Linked DNA regions of Homo sapiens. The protein of the gene in region 1 purifies or fractionates together with the protein of each later gene. This does not show direct contact. Each region holds a gene or a part of one and is shown in the gene's direction. Other genes may lie near its edges.

What was found. Proteins that work in one complex are often made in the same cells at the same time.
Region 2: the proteins of OR11G2 (region 1) and MLNR purify together in Homo sapiens (affinity purification with mass spectrometry; one large-scale study listed by BioGRID and IntAct). This does not show direct contact.
Region 3: the proteins of OR11G2 (region 1) and HPCAL4 purify together in Homo sapiens (affinity purification with mass spectrometry; one large-scale study listed by BioGRID and IntAct). This does not show direct contact.

Annotation. Positions count from the first base shown.
Region 1 is NC_000014.9:20,196,665-20,201,566, forward strand, and holds the end of OR11G2 (olfactory receptor 11G2), read left to right. Parts: intron 1-769; 5' UTR 770-773; coding exon 774-1,709; 3' UTR 1,710-4,411; downstream 4,412-4,902. UniProt on the Homo sapiens protein: Odorant receptor.
Region 2 is NC_000013.11:49,218,284-49,223,710, forward strand, and holds MLNR (motilin receptor), read left to right. Parts: upstream 1-2,054; coding exon 2,055-2,955; intron 2,956-3,756; coding exon 3,757-4,094; downstream 4,095-5,427. UniProt on the Homo sapiens protein: Receptor for motilin.
Region 3 is NC_000001.11:39,684,101-39,689,002, reverse strand, and holds part of HPCAL4 (hippocalcin-like protein 4), read left to right. Parts: intron 1-4,391; 5' UTR 4,392-4,399; coding exon 4,400-4,561; intron 4,562-4,850; coding exon 4,851-4,902. UniProt on the Homo sapiens protein: May be involved in the calcium-dependent regulation of rhodopsin phosphorylation.

The DNA of each region.
Region 1 (4,902 bases):
TATTGGAATAGAATTATATCTTTAACTATAGTCTAGGCAAATTTATATATTCTTCACGGCAAGCACAGACGTGTTTCAGCATGGCCAGTTAATTCTTTCAGCCTGGTCTACTGAGGATGGCTAGGACTGCTGTCCTAACACAAAAGAAACTGACAACAGCTAATTTCCTCTAATTGATTTGACTGTGTTACTCATGAAACAAGTGAATGATATTATTAAGTTAATAAGTTAACCATTTAATTTAGAATAAGGCCAGTGTCAAAAGTGACATAAAAGAAGTAATTCAAACAGTTTTATGGTCTCATATTACATGGCTACACAGTTTCACTCAGTCTCTGCCACAAAAAGCTGCAATGATTTCACCGTCTGAAAATGAAATTCATTTGTGTAAGAATATATCCATAAATACATATTCTGTTATATATTTATACAAAGGCTCTTGAAGGAAAGTGTTGTAAACATGCCTGAAAATTATAATGGCTTTACACCTAGTAAAATGTAAATGACAGCTTATCAATTTTGGTCAAAAGTTTTCTTGAGCCTATGGTAAAAATGTGAACGCGAGCAAAGAATCAATCCAGATCAATACGTCAGTTTAAAAGAAAAAAAGTGACTATTGACATATCTGCATTCTGTTTTTTACTTTTTACTTTTATTTCAATAGTAAATTTATGCATTTTCTTTCCCAAAATGATTTAAATATAAATCTGATTCCCCATCTATGTTTGCACCGTCATTCAGTAATTGCTGGTGCTTTTACAATTCACAGGCACATGAAAATCTTCAACAGCCCCAGCAACTCCAGCACCTTCACTGGCTTCATCCTCCTGGGCTTCCCTTGCCCCAGGGAGGGGCAGATCCTCCTCTTTGTGCTCTTCACTGTTGTTTACCTCCTGACCCTCATGGGCAATGGTTCCATCATCTGTGCTGTGCACTGGGATCAGAGACTCCACGCCCCCATGTACATCCTGCTCGCCAACTTCTCCTTCTTGGAGATATGTTATGTCACCTCCACAGTCCCCAGCATGCTGGCCAACTTCCTCTCTGACACCAAGATCATCTCGTTCTCTGGCTGCTTCCTCCAGTTCTACTTTTTCTTCTCCTTGGGCTCTACAGAATGCTTTTTCCTGGCAGTTATGGCATTTGATCGATACCTTGCCATCTGTCGGCCTCTACGCTATCCAACCATTATGACCAGACGTCTCTGTACCAATCTTGTGGTCAATTGCTGGGTACTTGGTTTCATCTGGTTCTTGATTCCTATCGTCAACATCTCCCAAATGTCCTTCTGTGGATCTAGGATTATTGACCACTTCCTATGTGACCCAGCTCCTCTTCTAACTCTCACTTGCAAAAAAGGCCCTGTGATAGAGCTTGTCTTTTCTGTCTTAAGTCCTCTGCCTGTCTTTATGCTCTTTCTCTTCATTGTGGGGTCCTATGCTCTGGTCGTGAGAGCTGTGTTGAGGGTCCCTTCAGCAGCTGGGAGAAGAAAGGCTTTCTCCACCTGTGGGTCTCACCTGGCTGTGGTTTCACTGTTCTACGGCTCAGTACTGGTCATGTATGGGAGCCCACCATCTAAGAATGAAGCTGGAAAGCAGAAGACTGTGACTCTGTTTTATTCTGTTGTTACCCCACTGCTTAACCCTGTGATATATAGTCTTAGGAACAAAGATATGAGAAAAGCTCTGAAGAAATTTTGGGGAACATAAAATGTTAATCAAAAAGGTCCTTGCGTAATTAATCTTGTCTTTAATTTTGGGGTTTAAAAAAAAAACTGGTCTTGGCCAGGCGCGGTGGCTTACGCCTGTAATCCCAGCACTTTGGGAGCCCGAGGCGGGTGGATCACGAGGTCAGGAGATCAAGACCACCCTGGCTAACACGGTGAAACCCTGTCTCTACTAAAAAATACAAAAAATTAGCCGGGCGTGGTGGCGGACGCCTGTAGTCCCAGCTACTCGGGAGGCTGAGGCAGGAGAATGGCGTGAACCCGGGAGGCGGAGCTTGCAGTGAGCCGAGATCGCGCCACTGCACTCAAGCCTGGGCGACAGAGCGAGACTCTGTCTCAGGAAAAAAAAAAAAAAAAAACTGGTCTTATACAGTTAATTGTTCATCTTACTATTGGCCAAAGCTAAAATACCTGTGAGCATGTTTCTGTTATTTCTCCTTTCAGATCTTGATTATTTGCCCAGTTGTGTAACATGCCTCAATGTTTTTTAATTGACTGGTGGGCATTGTATTTTAAAAACTATAAAGACAATATATGCAGTAATGAAGGTTTTGTTCTAGCAAGTAGATGGAGTAGAGGCAGATCACATTGATTCTATTTAAGCACTACTTGTATGTGTTTTTAAAATGATCTGTGCTCGTTTTAGTTTTACTCTTAGGGTGTGGCTCTTACTGCAGGAACATAGCCTTTCTGAGACCTCAGGGACAAATCTGGACTGTTTAGAAGGTCCCTCCGCTTCAGCTGATCCTAGCCTCCTATTTCAGTACTTCTTGAACCCCATGACTCCTGAAACTTCCGCTTTGCTCTTTAGACTCTCAGCTTTTGTTTCTGCTAGCTATTTTGGGGTCTCACCGTGTACACACAGCTTAGAAATCCAAAAATGCCTTGAAGGGGAATTGCATCATATTTTTAGCCTAGCTTCTGTGGTCCTTCCCTCTCCAGGATTTCTCAAACGCCAGGTGCTTTGGCAACTTTCAAATTCTCTACCTTCTCAGTTCAGTAAAACTACTGCTTTCTGCTCAGTCCTTATTCCTCCTTTCCTCATACTCTCCCAACCCAGTAAATGGTCAAATATCCTCAGGGAAATACACATGGGGAATGTGAAACTCACCTCCCTTTTCTTCCCTTCATCTTGGACTGTAGCCCATGAAGGCTTGCCTATGTCAGTTGCTCTGAGTGCCTTCAAATGGTTGTTTTATGTATTTTGTCCAGATTTTACTGTTGATAGAAATTATTTTGGGTTTAGTACAAGTTTTTCAGTCATGACCAGAAAGTTTTTTCTATTCTATCTAGATTCCATACATTCTCACTTCTTCCTTCACTTTCAGGAGATTATCATGTAGCATGTGTCTTCAAAAGCCCACAAATCAGAGAGACAGGTGGATATAGAGGCTGGCATAAACACAAATCTGGGATGCACACCTGCTTTTCTTTTCATTGCAACCAGCAAAGAATCCCTGAGGACTCTTCCCCTGCAGGAAGCAGGGGAAAGGTTACCTATGGTAAAATAAATGATAAAATCAGGACCACAGATTTTGGCCTTTTTTTAATGGAAGGCACCCAGTAATTGTAGATCAGTAAAAATAGTCACCCAGAATTTGTATTAGAAGCTTGGGCTAGTTCTCCTTGAACTTTCCCCTAGGCCTGGAGTGAAAGGTCATGCTATGATTGAAGTGTCTTCACTAATCCAAATACCTGTTTTTCAGGTTAAATAAATAGGAATTGGGAATCAGGGAGCAATTTGCTGAGGATAATGACTTAATTCCAAAAAAAAAAAAAAAAAAAGTTCCTATCCACCACCCTTTTAACTAGCCCAAGTTCCCTTTGCTTTGAAAAGTAACCCTGAATTTCTCTTTAGGACTTCTCACTTATTTGCCAGTCATATCACAATAAGTTTGTTTCCTTAATATAAACGAAGCTCTGTAAAATAGTAAGAGAACAGAACAGTATCCCAGTAAGAAAATGAGCAAAAGGATATAAACGAATAACATCCAGAAAAAGATTCTTAAACATGGAAAGGGCACTAACTAATTCATAAAAAGGTAAAAGTAGAATAAGCCTATAAATATATCTCACTTTTTATCTATTAAATTGACAAAGATCAAGAAGTTTGATTACACATTGCGTGTCTGAGGATTGTGAAATGGGTTCTCTCACACTTAGCTGGTGGGCGTATCAGCTTTACAAACTCTATATAGGGTGACAAGGCAACCTCTATCAAAATTTAGAAGACACATATCCTTTAAAACAGCACCTCAACTTTTAAGTTGTTTAACCTACAGATATTTTTACACATGTGGGAAATGTTTACTGCAGCATTGTTGTAATAGCAAAATATTGAGAAAAACATCAGTTCCCATTAATAGAAGACTAGTAAAATGAGCTATGGTGAGTTATACCATGGAATATTATGTCTTCAATTTATAAACTATGAAGCAGTTCCATATGCAATGATATATAATATGTCCAAGACACACTGTTAAATGAAAAAAGCAAAGTGAATAGCAGAGTGTATTGTAGCTGCCTTCCATGGAAATGTGTATATCTCCTGAAAGAGCTCCAAAAAACTGATAACAATGGTTGCTTCAGGCAAGAAGAATTTTGTGTCTAAGGAACAAGATAGTAAAGGAGACTTTTTTTTCATAACTCCTTTTGTGCGTTCAAATTCTTTATCATGTGCCTATATTATGCATTGAAAAAATAATAAAACATATTTTGTAAAATTTTTTTATTTCCATAGGTTATTGGGGAACAGGTGATGTTTGGTTATATGAGTAAGTTCTTTAAACAAAGAACAATTTTCAATTTTTTTTTTTTTTTTTTTTTTTTGAGATGGAGTTTAGCTCCTGTTGCCCAGGCTGGAGTGCAATGGCGCCATCTCGGCTCACTGCAACCTCCACCTCCCACGTTCAAATGATTCTCCTGTCTCAGCCTCCTGAGTAGCTGGGATTACAGGTGCCCGCCACTACGCCTGGCTAATTTTTGGTATTTTTAGTAGAGATGGAGATTCACCATGTTGGCCAGGCTGGTCTCGAACTTCTGACCTCAGGTGATCCACCCACCTCGGCCTCCCAAAGTGCTGGGATTACAGGCGTGAGCCACTGCACCCGGCCAACAAAGAACAATTTTCTAGGAGAACTTTCTGATCATTAGATTTGGAAAATCATTTTTTCCCG
Region 2 (5,427 bases), on another chromosome or scaffold:
GGAGTGATGGCGACTGCCCGTGGAATTTACGTTGGGTAAAGGAAGAAAGTGAAGACCTGGGGCAGGCAAGGGACCGGGAAAAGGAAGGAGGAGCCAGCGATGGAGGTCGCAGTGGGTTGAAGGATTACCGGAACTGAGGTGCTAGGGGAAGAGAGCTAAAAAGAGAGCGGGCGGAGGTCAGAAAGAGGGCTGACTGAAGTGGAGGTGGAGGAAGGCTGGCAGGCAACCGTGAGGTGTAAGTTCCGTCGACAGGCGCGGCTGAGATCGGGTGGAGAGCAAGGTCATAGGTGGAAAGGAGGTCAACAAACTAGAGGCCAAGGCATTCCAAGACTCGGCATGGGTGTGAACGGCCGCAGATGCAGTGCTTCAAAGAGAGCGCAGGCACCTGTCCCTCAGGGACTACGGGTGACCACGGAGGAAAGCGCTAGGGAGGGCGGTTTTAGGACCGCTGGAAACAGCAGCGATGAGGGAGGCGACAGGTGTCCCTCCTCCAAGCTCACAGTCTGCATGTGAGAGAGAACTGCAGGAGAAGCTTGCCCTAGGCAAAGCCAGGTGTCAGGTCCAGAATCGAGACTCCAGAGAAGAGGTTGAGGATTTAAGCCACTGAGGGGGTGGAGCTGGGCAGTGAGTAGGACGTCAGGCTTGCAAGCTCTGGGATTAGGCCGACCAGAGCCCATATCCCAGTCCCGCCTCTTACTGCCTGCTTGATCTCAAGCAAGACCGCTTTGTTCATGGGCGAAAGGAGCGCCCCGGGCCATGAGGATTAAATGGAGAGCACAGGGCCAGATCCATCTAAATTCTCAGTAAGTGTTAGCTATTGTTATTAAGACCACACCGAACAGACTGAACATCCGTTTTAGCCCCTTTCCCCAATTTTCGTTCTTTCCGGTGTTGACAAATCCTCTAGTTTTTTAAGTTTATAAAACATGTTGTACATAAGAATGACATATCACATGTGAAAGTACTCTAGTGTCCACGTAAATATTTGTCTTGTTCTTTATAATAAGTAAACATGCTCACGGATCCTTGAAATTATCTGGTCACTGCCGGGCGCGGTGGCTCACGCCTGTAATCCCAGCACTTTGGGAGGTCGAGGCGGGTGGACCACCTGGGGTCAGGAGTTCGAGACCAGGCTGGCCAACATGGCGAAACCCTGACTACACAAAAAACACAAAATTTAGCCGGGGCTTGGGCGCTCCTGTGCTCCCAGCTACTCAGGAGGCTGAGGTGGGAGGACTGCTTGAGCCTGGGAGGTCGAGGCTGCAGTGAGCTGTGATCGCGCCACTTAAACTCCAGCCTGGACGACAGTGAGACCCTGTCTCAAGAAGAAAAAAAGAAAGAAAGAAAGAAAAAAAGAAAAAAAAGAAATTATTTGGTCAATTATATGGTCAGCTCCCTCCACCACTCGCGAATTTACAGAAGAGGAGAACTGGGCTGGGCGAGACCAGGACTAGCCCAAGATTACACAAGTTACTCGGTTGTAGAGCCAGGATTAGACAGGAGAGGCTCTAGATTCTGGTCTAGACTCCCCTCCTATTATTTAGCATTATGGCTTCCTGAGGATTACCATGAGCCCTCCTCCACCGTCAAGCGGCAGCTACCAGCCACCAGACCAGATCCCTTCGAAGGTGCCCGGAGTACCAGACTGACAAAAGCGCCCGTACAGTGCTCAGTCCTGTAACCAAAGCTGTCTAGGGTGCAGACATCGCTCACCGGACCGGGTAGGGCTCGTGCGCTAAGGGCGCCGGGTATTCCAGTTAGTGGAGAGGGAAGCGCCCTGGAACTGCATGGGCCCGGGAGAGGGCGCGGGAGCGGAGCAGGGCCGGGCCGGGGCGGGCCGCGGCCGTGGGCGGAGACTGCGCGCAGCTAGCTCGGGAGCGCCTCGGAGCCCACCCCGCAGAGCCGCTTCTCGCGCCCCGCAGCGCAGCGCAGCGCTCCGCCGTCTGACCTGCCGCGCCCGCAGCGTGCGGGCTGGGAAAGGAGGCGCTCACCGAGAGGGACCACGCGCCAGGCTCCCAGCCCGACCCGGGACGCGGCGGCCGCGCGGAGCACCCATGGGCAGCCCCTGGAACGGCAGCGACGGCCCCGAGGGGGCGCGGGAGCCGCCGTGGCCCGCGCTGCCGCCTTGCGACGAGCGCCGCTGCTCGCCCTTTCCCCTGGGGGCGCTGGTGCCGGTGACCGCTGTGTGCCTGTGCCTGTTCGTCGTCGGGGTGAGCGGCAACGTGGTGACCGTGATGCTGATCGGGCGCTACCGGGACATGCGGACCACCACCAACTTGTACCTGGGCAGCATGGCCGTGTCCGACCTACTCATCCTGCTCGGGCTGCCGTTCGACCTGTACCGCCTCTGGCGCTCGCGGCCCTGGGTGTTCGGGCCGCTGCTCTGCCGCCTGTCCCTCTACGTGGGCGAGGGCTGCACCTACGCCACGCTGCTGCACATGACCGCGCTCAGCGTCGAGCGCTACCTGGCCATCTGCCGCCCGCTCCGCGCCCGCGTCTTGGTCACCCGGCGCCGCGTCCGCGCGCTCATCGCTGTGCTCTGGGCCGTGGCGCTGCTCTCTGCCGGTCCCTTCTTGTTCCTGGTGGGCGTCGAGCAGGACCCCGGCATCTCCGTAGTCCCGGGCCTCAATGGCACCGCGCGGATCGCCTCCTCGCCTCTCGCCTCGTCGCCGCCTCTCTGGCTCTCGCGGGCGCCACCGCCGTCCCCGCCGTCGGGGCCCGAGACCGCGGAGGCCGCGGCGCTGTTCAGCCGCGAATGCCGGCCGAGCCCCGCGCAGCTGGGCGCGCTGCGTGTCATGCTGTGGGTCACCACCGCCTACTTCTTCCTGCCCTTTCTGTGCCTCAGCATCCTCTACGGGCTCATCGGGCGGGAGCTGTGGAGCAGCCGGCGGCCGCTGCGAGGCCCGGCCGCCTCGGGGCGGGAGAGAGGCCACCGGCAGACCGTCCGCGTCCTGCGTAAGTGGAGCCGCCGTGGTTCCAAAGACGCCTGCCTGCAGTCCGCCCCGCCGGGGACCGCGCAAACGCTGGGTCCCCTTCCCCTGCTCGCCCAGCTCTGGGCGCCGCTTCCAGCTCCCTTTCCTATTTCGATTCCAGCCTCCACCCGCCGGTACTTCCCATCCCCCGAGAAAACCATGTCCTGTCCCCCAGGAGCTCTGGGGGACCCCAGGGCGCTTTGAGGGTGGGATCCCCGGATCCGATTCAGTAACCAGCAGTGCTTTTCCAGAGCCTCTGAGACCAGAAAGGAGAGTTGGTAATTCTTAATCCAACCACCTGTTAGATGCCACAGATGAGGAGTCCTCACAGTGCTCTTGAGAAGACGAGGGAGATTTCATTAAGCTAAAATTTTTTATTTAATGTTAAGTGATGCTGAAGGCTAAAGTAAACCTTGCTCGTATCAAAAAGTAAAGATTGTGCAGACCTGTTGTAGAATTCTTTTCAACAGAGAACAGAAAACTTGTCTCCGAAGTGGGTTTGTGGAAGGAAGCCTGCCAAGGCGGCTTGTTCAGAGAAATTGCTCCTTCTGGTTTATGTCCAGCCTTGATAACACATATGGGAGCCTACTATGCAGTTTTAAAGCAAGTATCCATGCAGCCTGCAGCCTGGTCATTTTTTCTGGGGTGAGGATCTGCCTAGGTAGAAGTTTTCTCTAATTTATTTTGCTGTTACTTGTTATTGCAGATGGTTCCTTGTCGGGGTGGGGGGTTTATTTGCTTCCCAATGCTTTTGTTAATCCCGGTGCTGTGTCTTATGTTGCAGTGGTGGTGGTTCTGGCATTTATAATTTGCTGGTTGCCCTTCCACGTTGGCAGAATCATTTACATAAACACGGAAGATTCGCGGATGATGTACTTCTCTCAGTACTTTAACATCGTCGCTCTGCAACTTTTCTATCTGAGCGCATCTATCAACCCAATCCTCTACAACCTCATTTCAAAGAAGTACAGAGCGGCGGCCTTTAAACTGCTGCTCGCAAGGAAGTCCAGGCCGAGAGGCTTCCACAGAAGCAGGGACACTGCGGGGGAAGTTGCAGGGGACACTGGAGGAGACACGGTGGGCTACACCGAGACAAGCGCTAACGTGAAGACGATGGGATAACCAGCACGGCCAAGCCAGGCTCCTCTTGCAGTTCTAAGACTTTGGGGAAAACAGGTGTGTAGAGAAATAAAGACTGCAAATGAGGAACAGATCCTGTTAAGAAGAATGGAAAGAGGGTTGCAGTTGTGCCAGTTGGTTAAGAAATAGACCGCATGATTTATTTAACCAAGGTATGAAATGTAACTGCGCCAACCTTTCTAGTTTCCTTCCCACGTACCTCCTAAGGAAGGTCGATTTTACCATCATGAAATCCCACATCTCAAAGTGTGCTCTTGTGTGATGGTTTCATGAAGTCCTCATTCTCCTACTCTTCGGAAAGATGATTGTTCATTTTACAGTTAAATGATACACAAAGATGCTGCCCCAAAACTGCCACCTCTGAGATCATGAGTGTATTTTATGTTTTGGATGTAAATGTAACAGTACATCTACAAGGAACCAGGATAATGATAGTTTTGATCCAAGAAATGATTTAATACCTATGTATGGCTGCAAAAACTTTTAGAAGTAAAAGGAATTCTGGGTAGACTCCAGTGTTCAGGGGTCCCACCTCTCTCCAGATCACAGCAAATCATAAAGTTTAGGCAAAATAATAGCCTCTTTCAGAAGTATTAAGCAATTGTGTTGCAACCCACTTCTCCTTGACACTGCCCATGGGACCTTCCCAGTGCCACTGGCCATGGGGTGGCAAACTTTGGGCATCAACATTTGAGAGTAGAGAGCTCAGCAGGACATGGCTTTCTCCAGTGACTACAAATGACGTTTGTAAAGAGCTATTTAATATGCTTTATCTCACCTCAGCTTGGTGGGGTGAGTACTGTTGTCAACATTCCTGTTTTGGAAGTGAGTCTTGGATTGCCCAAACAGGAGCTGGTGAGCTGGAGTCTGAATCCAGTGTTTAAGTTGCTCACCCAATCCCAAGCCAAGATGCTGTCCTTACTGAAAAACGCCAGCCAATGGATTTAGTCAAGAGTGAAAGAGAACTCACTGGACATTCTGATCAACAACTCTGTAACTTTGTTTTGTTTTTTAGAGTTTAAAACACAAATATTTTTAGAGGGTTACTGCTGTCACTCAGCTCCAAAGGGCTTCACTTATGCCACCTTCTGTATGAATGGCACCCCCAAGATGTGGGCAGGGTACAGCTTTCACAGTTGTACATGGGACCTTTTTTGGGGCTTTCAGATTGATAAATTCAAACCTAAATTACAATAGGATCTTGATTTGTATGAGGAATTTGTCCTGAGACCTTCATGAATCTTCACATCTACAAATACCAGAAAAATGACAAATGCTATAACTTCAGAGTTATAAAGACAGATAGACATAAAGT
Region 3 (4,902 bases), on another chromosome or scaffold:
AGACTGCATCCTGGAATTCTACAGCACCAGGTGAGGGTCAGAGGGCTATGAAGTCTACACGCCTGTGGGGGACTGACTCATGCCCAAAGTGCTGAGCTTGGGCTGCTGACTCTCCACTGTCCAGACTGGAAAAGGCTGATCATAAGGAAGCAGGCTTCAACCAGGCCCTGAAGACTGATTATAGTCCAGGAGAGAAGAAAGGATATTAGGGGAGAGGAAAATAGCTTAGCAAAGAGGTGAGGCGTGTCTGGCTGTGAGAAGGCTGGCTTGAGAGGAGTATGCGGTGGTGAGTGAGCAATGAGAGCTGAGGCGAGATAGGTGGGCACTTTGAGACCAGATTCTAGAGGATTCTAGAGTTTCAGGGGGCCCATGGGCATGGCTACTTCTAGTCTATATTGTAACTTTCGGGGGGAAAAAGCCATTCCCTCCTAACAGAGGAATCAAAAGAAAGGCACTTCCTGCCAGGCAGGGAAGCCCCATGGGCATGAGCATAGCTTGATTTCAGCCCCCTCGGCTGTGTCCCTGGCTATGGACATAATGAAGGTACCAAGAGCATTTCAAAATAAGAGACAACAGGACTTGATGGCAAGTTAGACCTAGGGCAAAGGGAAGGGAAAAAATGAAGGTAACTAAGATTGTGTTCCCCACACCCCGGGGATGAGGGAGAGAAGGAAGGGGCAACAGAGACAGTCTGACCATCTCTGGTTGGGAGCGAGTCTGGCTGTAGACTTGCTGTCTCAGAGGTGCTGGTGGACACCCCTAGGGTGGCTATCTCCTGGGTGTCAGAGATTGTGGCCCCAGATGGTTCCACTGCGGCCAAAAGGGAGATCAGAGCTCTGATTTTCCCAGAGGGCAGATGTGGGTGGAGAAGGTCTGTGCTGAACAAGAGTAGCCATGATTTGGAGACGGTGGCCCAGGCAGGTAGCACGGATTCAGCCTGAGTGCTCATCTGGGCCCTCCCACTGACCTGCTGTGTAACCCTGAGCCAGTTTTCTCCTATCTCTCAATTTCCATTTTCACTGAAATAAGGGGATGATCTTAAAGGGCACGGCCAGTTTTGACCTTCTTTTCTTAATTTTTTATTTACTTATTTTTTTTTTGAGACAGGGTCTTGCTCTGTTGCCCAGGCTCGAGTGCAGTGGCTCAATCACGGCTCACTGCAGCCTCAACCTCCTGGGCTCAAGTGATCCTCCCACCTCAGCTTCTGAGCAGCTGGGACTACAGGCACATGCTACCATGTCTGGCTAATTTTTAAATTTTATGTAGAAACAGGGTTTCCTTATCTTGCCCAGGCTCAGCTTTGACCTTCTGATGATCTAGAGGGAATGAGGAGAAATAAAGGAGGAGGCATAGTCTGGGTCTGAGACCCAATAAAAGCAGGGAACAGGAAGGACCCTAGGAGACAGAGAATTGTGGAGAAGGCAGCACAGAGCAGGGAGGAGAAAAGGGGTATAAGGTGAGAGCCACACAGACACTGTGACACACACAGAGAGACGTGTGCACTCTGACAGATTTGCAGCCTCAGACATTGACATGCTCCCACACACAGACCCAGCCCCTCATGCTGACTCTCAGGCACATCCTACGGAAGACAGCTGGAGAGGCTGTGCCTCCCCCCATCAGACATCTCTGCCTGACTTCTCCAGCTTCCTTGACTATACCCTGAGCCTTGAGAGTCCTTTGGATTTGGGAGAGGGGTGAGGCCTGCCTCCTTTTGCCTATGGGTGTTCCAGAGGCATCCTTGCTCTGGCCTCAGTGTAGCCATTTTCCGCCCAGCCTCAGGTTCCTGAAGATGGCATGCTCCCCCTCCCTGGCTTTTCCTGAGGGCATACAATTCCTCATCCTCTGGGAGTGGGGAAGGATGTTGCTACCTGCACTGCTCCTTGGTCTTCCTTATGGCCCAGTGGAGGAATCTGAGGCCCAGAGAGGATCTGTAACTAGCCTGAGGTCAGCCCAGCAAAGGGGAGTGGGAAGGAATGGACCAACCTCAGATTTGCTATTTAGTGTTTTCCCAGTTGTAAGAATTAGAAGCCCACTGGCAGACATCGGGCTATGGGAGTGGAATTCCTTCTGCCAGCCCAAGGGCTTCCTTTTCCAGAGTATCTTGAGGACAGGCTACCTGGGGTGGGAGCCTGACCCTCTTCCAAAGAGACTCTAGGCAGGTCAGAGGCACCTCCCAAGCCATGTCCTGGGAAACCCAGACTCTGCAGGGACATTCCTCCCAGGGAGGTCAGAGAGGAGGGTCCACTCTGCCTTCAAGGTCTGGCCACACTTCCTGAGGAGGGCCTGTACCTCTTCAAACACTTCCCCTGGCACAGCCCACTTACGGGCTCACATTCCCACTGGGGAATAACTCTTGATCCTTCCCAAACCTGCTTCTCAGCAACAACACTTCTATCCACTGAGGCTCAAATCTGAGCCTCTGCCTCAACTCCTCTGTTCCTCTTACTCCCACATCCAATCAACTGCAAAGTCCTGCCAGTGCCCTTCTTAACGTCTCAGCCCATCCACGTCTCTCCACGACCCTTACTCTGGCAGCATTGTCTCTCACCTGAACCGTGTAGCAGGCCCCTCCCTGCTCTACCTACCTGCCCCCACCAAAGGTCATCTTGCATGCTGTGGCCAAAGGAAAAATTCTTTTTTTTCTTTTTTGAGACAGGGCCTTTCTTTATCGCCCAGGCTGTAGTACAGTGGTGCCATCTCAGCTCACTGCAACCCCTGCCTCCCAGGCTCAAGTGATCCTCCCATCTTAGCCTCCCAAGTATCTGGGACTACAGGCATGCACCACCACACTCAGTGAATTTTTTTTTTTTTTTTTTTTTGAGACGGAGTCTCACTCTGTCGCCCAGGCTGGAGTGCAGTGGAGCGATCTCGGCTCACCGCAAGCTCCGCCTCTGGGGTTGATGCCATTCTCCTGCCTCAGCCTCCCAAGTAGCTGGGACTACTGGCGCCCGCCACCATGCCTGGCTAATTTTTTGTATTTTTAGTAGAGATGGGGTTTCACTGTGTTAGCCAGGATGGTCTTGATCTCCTGACCTCGTGATCCACCTGCCTCAGCCTCTCAAAGTGCTGGGATTACAGGCGTGAGCCACTGCGCCCGGCCAATATATTTTTTTTTTTTTTGAGGTGGAGTCTCACTGTGTCACCCAGGTTGGAGTGCAGTGGCGCGATCTCAGCTCACTGCATGCTCTCCCTCCTGGGTTGACGCCATTCTCCTGCCTCAGCCTCCCGAGTAGCTGGGACTACAGGCGCCTGCCACGACGCCCAGCTAATTTTTTTGTATTTGTAGTAGAGACAGGGTTTCACCGTGTTAGCCAGGATGGTCTTGATCACCTGACTTCGTGATCCACCCACCTTGGCCTCCCAAAGTGCTGGGATTACAGGTGTGAGCCACCGTGCCCGGCCGCGCCCAGCCAAATTTTTAAATTTTTTGTAGAGACTAGGTGTCACTGTATTGCCTAGGCTGGTCTCAAACTCCTGGCCTCAAGCTGTCCTCTCATCTCAGCCTCCCAAGGTACTGGGATTATAGGCATGAAATACGGTGCCCAGCCTGGAAAAATTTTAAAACACATACCTTTTCTTGGGTCCCCAGTGACTCGTTCAAGACTGGGTATATCATAAGCATTCTGTAAATATTGTGGAATGAATGCAATCTTCCCAGCCCTTGTTTTAAAAAATCCCAGGAGCGTCTGTTCCCTCCAATTTCTTGGCATGGATTGGAGGCCCTTTGTAACCAACCATCTGCCTCTTTGACCCAGTTACAAGTTATTGAAGGTTGGCTCATGTCTGCTTCATCTCCATCACTGGCACAGGGCCTAGCACACAGTCAGTCTCAATAAATGCTCAGGGAATGAATGGATTAATGAAAAGCCAAATGTCAGTAGAGGATTTCTATTTGTATAGAGGAAAGAGGGAGAGAAGCTCCCTGCTGGGGTGGCCCAAGAAAGCCTTGAGGAAGAAATTGGGAGACAGTGCCAAGGGGACACACAAGGAACCTACCTTGGGTCCCTTCTCAGGACAGAAGCCTGCCAAGGAGGGTGGGGGCTGACTTCAGAAAGCCCTAAATGGCAAGGAGAGGAGTCAAGGCCTTAGTCTGTGGGCAGGGGAGCCATGAAAGGTGTGAGCAGGAGGGGAGAGGATGAAGACTGTGGCGTGCTGCACGGTCAGTGAGGAGGAGAGCTGAGACCTGGAAGGCGGGAGACCCCCGGGGCTAGGAGAAGAAACCTACCTGAATGCAGGTGTTGTGAGGGGAGAGGAGGCCCCATTATGGGGGAGTGTCATGAGGGGAAGGAACCTGCAACCCCGCCCTGTGTGTGGCAGGGGAGGGGGCAGCTGTGGCTGAGGCAGGGCCTTTCCCTGGACCCAGTCGGAGGAATCCCTCTGTCCCACAGGCCCCGCCATGGGGAAGACCAACAGCAAGCTGGCCCCCGAGGTGCTGGAGGACCTTGTTCAGAACACTGAGTTCAGCGAGCAGGAGCTGAAGCAGTGGTACAAGGGCTTCCTGAAGGACTGCCCCAGCGGCATCCTCAACCTGGAGGAGTTTCAGCAGCTCTACATCAAGGTGGGCGGCCGGCACCTGGTGTGAGGGAGCCAAGTACCCGGGTTGGGGGAGGCGAGGAACCGGGGGTGAGGGAGGCAGGGCACCCTGGGATGAGAAGAGGCGAGGCACCCGGGGTGGGAGGGGAGGCGAGGCACCCGGGGTGCGGGGGAGGTGAGGCACCCGGGGTGGCGGGGGCAAGGCACCCGGGGTGGGAGGAGGCGAGGCACCCGGGGTGCAGGGGAGGTTCCCTGAGATGGGGGCGGGGTGGGCGGGGCTGTCGCTGCGCCCCAACCCACCGCACCCCCCTCAGTTCTTCCCCTACGGCGACGCCTCCAAGTTCGCGCAGCACGCTTTCCGCACCT